2 linked regions of the Homo sapiens genome follow. The protein of the gene in region 2 purifies or fractionates together with the protein of the main gene of each other region. This does not show direct contact. Each region holds a gene or a part of one and is shown on either strand. Other genes may lie near its edges.

Region 1 (4,684 bases), on a different chromosome or scaffold from region 2:
ATCCCCCATTTTATTCCCCTTAGATACTGACCATGGGATTCTATGTGCTTACAAATTTGTTACATCTACATTTCACAACTTAAACATACTTTTCTGTTTTAAATGAATATGTGTCTAAGCTTTTTAAACACTAAACAACTGCCGTTTTTCCCCAGGTCAATTTCTGCCTTGTGGATAATTTTCTGAATCTGTAATATTTCTGAAGATTCCTCCAAGTATTTACAGAACATACAGAAGTATTTTATGAGTAAAGTCTCATTTTAATCTGAATTTAAATCCAATCAAAACTCACAAGAAACTACTTCGGAATCAAAACAGTAACAAAGTACCCTATCCCAACATTGATTTAATTAAGAAAGAATTTATTTCTATAGATGTTGGCACTTTGCATATGAAGGTTTGAAGCTGCCCATTTCAAGCAACAAAAAGAAATGTTAAAAACCAAGGTAGTCTTCCTGGGAAATCCCGTTAGTAATGGATTTCTCTGCTAGTAATGGGGTTGTTCATTAGTATGGGGTATTTGTATACACTTTGAAAAGTTATAGTTTCCAGTTTGTAAAAATCATGTGTTCCCAGTTTGGCTTCAACATGCAAACTGTGTGCTATGCATCAAACAGGCAATCCCTAAGTATACACTGATTTTATGCATTGATTCAGTCAGTGTGTTTTTTTACTTGTGTGTGTGCCAGGGTAGCTCTTGATTTGAAACACTATTAATTCCAAGAACTTCGGACATGCCCAAATCCCAGATTCAAACAAATGTTTTAACTCATTCAACATTTTATAACCCCTACTTTTATGGAGATTTTGAAGGAATTATATTTCACTATATTTCATTGTTTGGACAAATTGTATGCAAATTAGAAAGTAATTAGTTCTTTATCACTTCTTTTCCTTAAATGTATGATAACATGGATTTATAGTTTATCATATACTCATATTATAAATTACAATGGTGTATGTCTTTTATTCTATGTTTTGGGCCCACAGAGCACAGGTGACAAAATTTGAGTTCTAACATATTCCAATTTGATTATTCCTATTGAAGCTGTGCTTCTTTACTAAATAATTGGTAAAAAAATTTTTTTTGTATAAAGTTTCATTTTGGCTCCCTCCTTGTCCTAAAATCGCATACTTTCAGCAATCTGCATTAAATATTTATTAAACTACTGTCATTCTCTTAGCTCCTGATACTGACTCTGGCTCGCAGCGGGCTTCTAGGGCAATTTAACCACATTATGAATTCACAACACATTTTGACATTAAAGAAAAACTTCCCTGTGTCCAAAGCGCATACCTATGTTTATATAAAATGTAACCAAATCAATTTCACTTTCCTTTTATAAAAGAACATAATAGGCACAGCATGAAGCAATCTGTATGATGGATTTTCCTGATATGAAAATTGTAAGCAGTGTGATTTTCTGCTTTAGACAGCTGAGGTGGCGCTAGCTAATCTCAAGAACAAATATGAAAATGAAAAAGCAATGGTGACTGAAACCATGACGAAGCTTAGAAATGAACTGAAGGCTTTGAAAGAAGATGCTGCAACCTTCTCATCCCTGAGAGCAATGTTTGCAACAAGGTAACAGTATTTTCTTCCTATGACTGGGTGTGGTAGGTGGGGTAAAGGCTTTAAAATTCACAGCCCTGCCTTTGTGCATGTTGAGTGTATTCGGTGAGTAGTCTAGGATGGCTAAGTGTGAAGAAAATCTGTGGAAGTCCACTCTGACGTATCTAAAAGCAAGCCTTCTGTGCTGTTTTCCAGAGCCCCCTACTGAACACTCTGGATCCAGAAATTCTATTACATAAAAATATTTTTTAAGTAAGCTAATATTAATAGGTTGTTTCTAGAATTTATGCACCCCAAAGAGAGTCTCCCTCCAAATAAAAAGCTTTCAATAAGGAAAAAAACCCCACTTCCTAGAATAGCTAAATATTATCACCTCTGAAATAGAGTTCTGTGAAGGAAGTACATGAAAGTATATAAAAGTGCCTTACCTTTAGTACTGTGCGAGAAGATACTGTCATAATGAAGATTAATAATCATCACATCAGCTAATTACTTATAATTTTTTTTTTTTTTGAGACGGAGTCTTACTCTGTTGCCCAGGCTAGAGGGCAGTGGTGCGATCTCAGCTCACTGCAACCTCCGCCTCCCGGGTTCTAGCGATTCTCCTGCCTCACCCTCCCGAGTAGCTGGGAATACAGGCACCTGCCACCACGCCCGGCTAATTTTTTGTACTTTTAGCAGAGACGGGGTTTCACCCTGTTAGCCAGGATGGTCTCGATTTCCTGACCTCATGATCTGCCCGCCTCGGCCTCCCAAAGTGCTGGGATTACAGGCGTGAGCCACCGCGCCCGGCTGTATTTTGTGTTTAAACATGAAGTGATTGTTAAGAATGTATTTGATTTGAAGTTTTCAGAATCTTGAGATTTTCAATATACTGTTGAAATACATTTTTTGCTGTCACAATGCAGTGTCAAAAAAGACCTACTTTTTTTTTTTTTTTTTTGAGATAGGGTCTCACTCTGTCACCCAGGCTGAAGTGCAGTGGCGCTATCTCGGTTCACTGCAGCCTGGACATCCTGGACTCAAGCAATCCTCCCACGTCACCTCAGCCTCCCGAGTACCTAGGACTGCAGGCTTGCACTACCACACCCGCTAATTTTTGTGGTTTTTGTGGAGGCAGGGTCTCGCCATGTTGCCCAGGCTGGTCTCAAACTCCTGGGCTCAAGAGATCCGCCCACCTCGGCCTCCAAAAGTCCTGAGATACGGGTATGAGCCACCATGCCCGACCAAATCCTACCAATTGTGTATCTTGTATGATGCAAACTTGGTGCAAAATTCACGAATAATTACTATGGCTTTACTTGCAGATTTAGTAAATAATTTACATTTGGCTGATACATGTAAAAGTGTTAAAAACAAACAAAAAAAGATCTCTTGAGCTTTATAGGAGTCCCCCAGAAACTGAGATCACACCACTGTACTCCAGCCTGGGTGACAGAGCGAGACTCCGTCTCAAAAATAATAATAATTTTTTATAAAAAGGAATTGTTATCCCCAAATTGTCTATTTTCACAGACTTTTTTTTGGCATGAACAGTATTTGTTATTCATATTTTAGCGGGTAAATAAACTCAGAAAAAAAACAAAACAAAATTCAGAATGAGCTTTTTCTCCACGCCACCTCTACCTTCCAAATGTATATGTGCCAGGTTTTGCCTTTGGTAAGGAAAAAAGATCACTAAGCTTATCTTTCTTCTTCGGCACAAGTATGAAACCTGAATAAAGATGTTTCGGACAGCCTGCTGTATCTGTATGAAACCTTGTGAAATCTTGGTTTTTGCAGGGTTTTCTGTTTTTTGTTTTTTGACAACTCATTGCTCTGTCATCTGGTTGAGAAATCATTGAAAATACTCAGTTTTCTAATTCAGGCAAATCAGTCAAATTGACAAGACCAACAGCTGCAATCTATACTAAACTAAAACGTATAAATATAGATAAGGAAATGTTTTCTTTATAAACATTATTATTTTGGATACTATAGGCATAGCCTATAATAAACTTGTTACATTCCTCCAAAGAATACAATGTCATACAGTAAAAAGAGCTACTGTAAGACACTTCAGGTATAGTGGACATTGTGTGAGACTTGACTGTTATTCGTCTGTTACACAGCAGCCCCACGATAACTCTGTCCCTGGGGTTTAAGACATTGCCTATTAAGACTGTCTCCATATGGGCTGGGTGCAGTGGCTGATACCTGTAATCGCAGCACTTTGGGAGACTGAGGCAAGAAGATCACTTGAGGCCAGGAGTTCGAGACCAGTCTGGGCAACACAGTGAGACCCTGTCTCTTTAAAAAATAATAATGACTGGGCGTGGTGGCTCATGCCAGTAATCCCAGCACTTTGAGAGGCCAAGGTGGGAGGATCACTTGAGGTCTGGAGTTCAAGACCAGCCTGGCCAACATGGTGAAACCCCGTCTCTACTAAAAAAAATACAAAAATTAGCTTGGCATGGTGGCACACTCCTGTAATTCCAGCAACTCGGCAGGCTGAGGCATGAGAATCGCTTGAACCTGGGAGGCAGAGGTTACAGTGAGCCAAGATCACGCCACTGCACTCCAGCCTGGGCGATACAGCGAGACTCAGTCTCAAAAAACAAATAAACAAAACAACAACAACAAAATAATAATAAATTTTTTAAAAATGTCCCATATATCTCATTGTATGGATGAACATATATTCCAGTTTTCTGCTATTGTGGGTTATCTACATTCTATTGCTAGACCTTTAAACCAGTCTTCTAAATTTCTAAATTTCGGTCAAATTTATTACTTTTCAGCTTAACTCCCAAATTCAGTTTCACCAAGATTTTCCTCTGACCACTTCTCTGTTTTGGTTCCAGATGTGATGAATATGTCACCCAGTTGGATGAGATGCAGAGACAGTTAGCAGCTGCAGAGGATGAGAAGAAGACTCTGAACACTTTGTTACGAATGGCTATCCAGCAAAAACTCGCCCTGACCCAGAGGCTGGAGGACTTAGAGTTTGACCATGAGCAGTCCCGACGCAGCAAAGGCAAACTTGGAAAGAGCAAGATCGGCAGCCCTAAAGTAAGTGGGGAGGCATCAGTCACCGTGCCCACCATAGACACTTACCTCCTGCATAGTCAG
Region 2 (5,084 bases):
ATACTATTTTAATACAAGGGTATCCAGCTCTATTTTACATTGTTGCCTACTCATTACAACATTTCACTGATTTAGTTATACAGTTCTCTGCTTTGGAATTTTAACTTTATATGGAATTTTTAAAAAAGTCTGTCAAAACTAGCCATGTCTCCTGATTTGCAAGTGAAGCAACCAAAGAATAGAAAGCACTTCTGGGTGAAATTTAACCTTTTGATCAGGAGATTATATAATAGACATTTCACATAATTTAAGTGAGAATTCCAGTCTTATGGCCAAAACATAACTATTATTATGGGGAAAATGGACATCAAGTACATGTTAGAAAATTACTTCTTATAATTTTGCACAGTAAATAAGACTACAAAACACACAGGCTGCACAAATCTCAATGAAGTGCAGAATTATATTGAATGCTAGGTTAAGGACCTTACCCATTTGACACTAATCTTATTTTGGTGCTCATAGCACAGAGTCCATCAACATTTGATTATCTTCTGTATGGATGTAGATTTTCTAATCTTCTTTTCTGTGTAAATCTTACCACTCCACCACAAACAGATGGCAGGAATGTTTTACACAGTACTTTCTTCAGAGTGCAGTGTACATGGTTGCCATTGAACCAACACTGATAGTTCTGCCAGAAGTAGGAACTGATAGAAGTGTTGCAACACAGGACAAACCTGAGCCTCTAGTCCCAAGTTCCCGACCTAGCTGGCAGTGTGGCCTTGAGTTTGCTAAGCTTCCATTTTCTCATCCATAAAATGGGAATAATGGTAGTTCCTGCCACATAAAGGCAGTATGAGGTTGGTATAAAAGCTTTGAAATGAAATAAAACAGGCTTGTGAGATGGGTCAGTTTGGCCAACATTTCCAATTCTACATTTCAGTGTTCAGCATATTAACATGGTTTTAGGTTGTTTTTGTGTTTCCAACTGCATATATCTCATCATTCATGAGCTGCTCAATTAAGAAAGTCTGAGCCACCCCTAAAGATGGCAACATGAAATAAAGCCATCTTTGAAGCACCCAAAATCACAAACAGGGCCTTGCCCAAGGTTAAGTCATGATTCTGCAGGTAAACTATGCACTGCCACAGTATACGGGGACCCCAAACTGGCTGGTGTAAAAGTCATCCTTCTATAATAGAAATGGAGTCCCAATGCTCTAAATCCTATACAAATCACTTGGGGAATCTCTTTAAAATGAAGATTCTGATTTAGTAGGTCTGGAGTGCGGGCTGAGATTCTGCATTTGTAGAATGTGTTTAGTGAAATATTTTGATGCTACCATTCTAAAGACCAATGATAAATACACTGAAACTTTATTAAAAGGTCAGGGTATATAGAAAACAAAAGGCATGTTTGCAAAATTATTTATTTACATCTTAAGCTCACATTAAAATCTTTCTAGGATAGAATGGCTAAGATGAAATATACAAAGCTGATATAAACACAGAACTCATTAATCTTTATCTGAACAGAAACATAGAGATGGCTTTAGATAATCTGTTTTTCCTTCACAAACCAATGTTCCCTTAAGTCATGCCATGATAATGTCTCCCCATTAAGAACTTAACTTGTATTGCCCAAAAAAGCTGAGAAGCAAAAAGCTAACTTTGATTTGTTAAACAGCTATTCATATGCCACAAAACCAAAACTATTTTACAGTGCTGAGAGGTCCAGATAGGTCCAAACATGATGATTTTTAAATGAGTGCTTTGGTTAATTAGGCTTTGACTTGGTTTTTGGCATTACTTGTATAATTATATCATTCCAATGAGTCACTACAGGTAATCCATTCAAAACATGACTTGCTTAATACTATCACAAAGCACTTAGCCTTGCCTTGACTGGAAATACCTTTAAGATGCTGACAATAGCAACAATTTCTCCTTTCCTTCACTCAGCAAAAGAAATCACATAAATCACAAAATAAAAAATTCATTTCTCACATGTTAAAAAAGCAAAGTCTGCCATAAACCCTTAGAGAAGAAACAGTTTCTCATAATATCTGCCCTGGGTAATAGTGCATTATTAAAATACTAGACCTGCAAGATCTCTTCCTATGCCTTGGAAGCCTATGACTTCATGATCTATTCATGAAAAATATGCCGAAGGCTAAATATGCAATGCATTGAAATTTCTGGGAAGAATTCACATTTAAAACAGTTTAAAAAATCTGGATTTAGTAAGAGTTTTAGAAAAATAAATAAAACACTGTGGTTCTACTTCTCCCCTTCTACTCTCCCTTCACAAATCTAAGCTTAAGTGCAGGCTTCTAAAAAGCAGAAGAGAGTACAATAGGATGAGAGAGGTGGGTTTTACTATCCACATTTTCCTTTTCTTAGTGTAACGTATTATCTCAAAGGCAAACTTGATTCCCTTTTCTTGAAACGAAGATCCCATCTTCTGAGACGATCTTAAATAATTGTTCTTAAATCAAAAAGTTTGAAAATCAGTGCTTTTAATAAGCAACTAAATGCCTATAAAATATATAACTTAATATTTTGAAGAATGCTATTGTAAAGTTTGAAACAAGATCTAAACATTTTTAAGTTTACATTTAATGTCTTTAAAAGGTCTTTTAAAAGCTATAAGTTCTATTATAAATTGCCAACTAAATTATAAATTGCCACTCACCTTCTCAAAAATTGTTGCACAAATGCATACATTTAAGGTATCTGTATGGTATTTCTCATATTGATCTTTTTCCCAATCTCATAAGTGGGATAAAATGAGAAATTAAGCACCTAGATGTTGGTTAAATTCATTTGAGCAGCATTTTGATTTTGAATAGAGATTCTAAATGTAGTCTAAACTTTCCAGAAAGTCATATTTACATTCATTGTACATTTTATATACACATAAATACAAATTTATAGGAAATAAACAAATTAACCTACACCTCTCATACTGTAAAAGACAAAAATTAAAAATACAACAACCGTGATCACATGCTAAGGCCAGCTATCTGGGAAATATTATTGTTCAGTTCCAACAGCAATAACTTTGAGTAACTTGACACATATCACATAAATACACTACAGGTACTTAGTTTATTTTTGTCCTTAGCCTAGGCCAATCCACAGTTTTAAGTGAAACAATTTTCTGTGAAAGCTAATGCCATACAAGTAGTCAAACACTTACTAGAAATGTCTGCACCACAGAAGAAAGATCTAAAGAAGGCATAATAGCAGATGTCAAATATTTTGAAGTATAATTATAGGGAAGGATTAAAATTAACTCTTTATCCAGGGGGAACTCAGGGCTTTCTGACAAGAGCTGTGCAAAAATTCAAAGGTTTGCTTCATCAGTGTGAACTCCCAGTCCCACAAAAAACAGTGCCTTGTCAAGGCTCTTGTAGTGAGGCCTCCTGGGTTGACCGGTGAGACTCATAAGCCCCCAAGAAACCCTGAAGTTCCCTGATGGAAATTATTTTGTTGAGATTGAGTTTCTGACATGATGACTTCTTGGGCAGTTTGCTTTCTCTTGTGTTCCTGCCCATAAAGCAGTGCTTGATTTTGCTGTTCACCTTTTGTAAATAGATGGGCTTGGCCCTCCAGGAATATATCAAAGCGAACTTTTCGGATTATTGTCTCATGAAAACAAGCAGGTTGTTGTGATGAACTTGGAAAGTGCCCTGCACCTAGTAAGTCTTCCACCAACTGCTGGCGGAAGTGGCTAGCAGAGATTATAATTGGAAGAAAAAAAAGGTTACCGAATCTAAAATGTTGACTGTTCTATAAAGTTTTGATCTTGAGCATGAGTGGAAAGTCCTATTTGGCACTCCTTGACCTCAGGTGGCATGCCAATGATTATCACAGTAAGAAATTCTTAGAATCAGATTTGAGGTATAGAAGGAATAAGAAACACAGAAAATTTTGACCTATATTAAATAAACTCTTCTATAAGTCAGGTTTTTAACCCTAAAATCAAGGCCTTTTTTCCCCCAGAATATTAAATTTACTAAAAACGTAGAAATAAAAATTCTAGTATGGCTGTAAATATATAAGACAAATAAATGAGGTCACATGGTTTATACATTTCAAATTCTTAGAGAGGCCCTACAGTAGTTCAGGAAGACAGTTTACAGTATTGTTCCCTGAGTTCTTGAGGCAACCTCAAGTAAATTTATGAACTCTAAGATTTGAGAGACAGAAAACCTACATGGTCTGCTTATCCCTCTTTTCTAAGAGTAGCTATTTACTCCAAAGTGGTTTGTTCAGTGCTTTCCCTATAGTTCAACTGCTTTAATTATGTGGCTTTATCCGTTTCTTAGAAGACCAGCTCCCCAAATGAAACTTTTAAGAGAAAGAAGAAAAGGCTGTTTAAAGCAAGTAAGCTTTTAACATTAGTTAAGAGTGCAATTGAGTAAATCAGTTCTAAATCTATAATACAAGAAGAGTGGTAATACTGTCACAGGTGTTAGAAGGTTAGAATTCTACAGATTTGGGTTTGTCTGATGTCAGCGGTTAATAACCACTTAATAAGCCCTGCCTCCTAACCAATTATACTCTACTAATTGTCTACCAATTCAAAGAACCAAAACTATTATAATGACTTTCCAGTATTTAAATATGTAAGAACACCTAAATTTGGTTTTAAAATAAAGTTTATAACAACCATTCTCATCAGATCTCAAACTTCAAATATCTAGATTTTACACATAGATTTGTAATAATTAAAAAAAAAACCAAAACCACAAAAACTCATTCAAAACTGGTATTTTTTAGGTTCTTGAATTTTCATATGTCCACATTCTTGGTGGCTATTAAAATTTTAAAATAAATTCAAATCTTGGGAATAATTTAAGTAGTGAAATATGTGAGTATTTATTTTCAAACTCCCATAAGGGTCTATTTAGAAAAACTAATTATGATAAATGGAAACTCCAGTTGTGTTGCTGGCAGTTTTAGGTTAGGCTTAATTTTAAGTTGAGAACCTACTGAAATGTTCATCTATTTCAGTAAAGTGCACAAATATGAGTGTACCCTTTGGTTTGGCTATGACCTCAAAGGAGGTGTAGAAGTCAATGGCGCTGGTGTCAGATTCCTAACTATATTACTGAGGCTGGCAATCTTCTCCT

The links. The genes of interacting proteins can lie anywhere in the genome.
Region 1: the proteins of NIN (region 2) and BICD1 purify together in Homo sapiens (co-immunoprecipitation; one study listed by IntAct). This does not show direct contact.

Annotation. Positions count from the first base shown.
Region 1 is NC_000012.12:32,333,083-32,337,766, forward strand, and holds part of BICD1 (protein bicaudal D homolog 1), read left to right. Parts: intron 1-1,433; coding exon 1,434-1,585; intron 1,586-4,416; coding exon 4,417-4,684. UniProt on the Homo sapiens protein: Regulates coat complex coatomer protein I (COPI)-independent Golgi-endoplasmic reticulum transport by recruiting the dynein-dynactin motor complex.
Region 2 is NC_000014.9:50,718,462-50,723,545, forward strand, and holds the end of NIN (ninein), read right to left. Parts: coding exon 5,002-5,084; 3' UTR 1,302-5,001; downstream 1-1,301. UniProt on the Homo sapiens protein: Centrosomal protein required in the positioning and anchorage of the microtubule minus-end in epithelial cells. May also act as a centrosome maturation factor.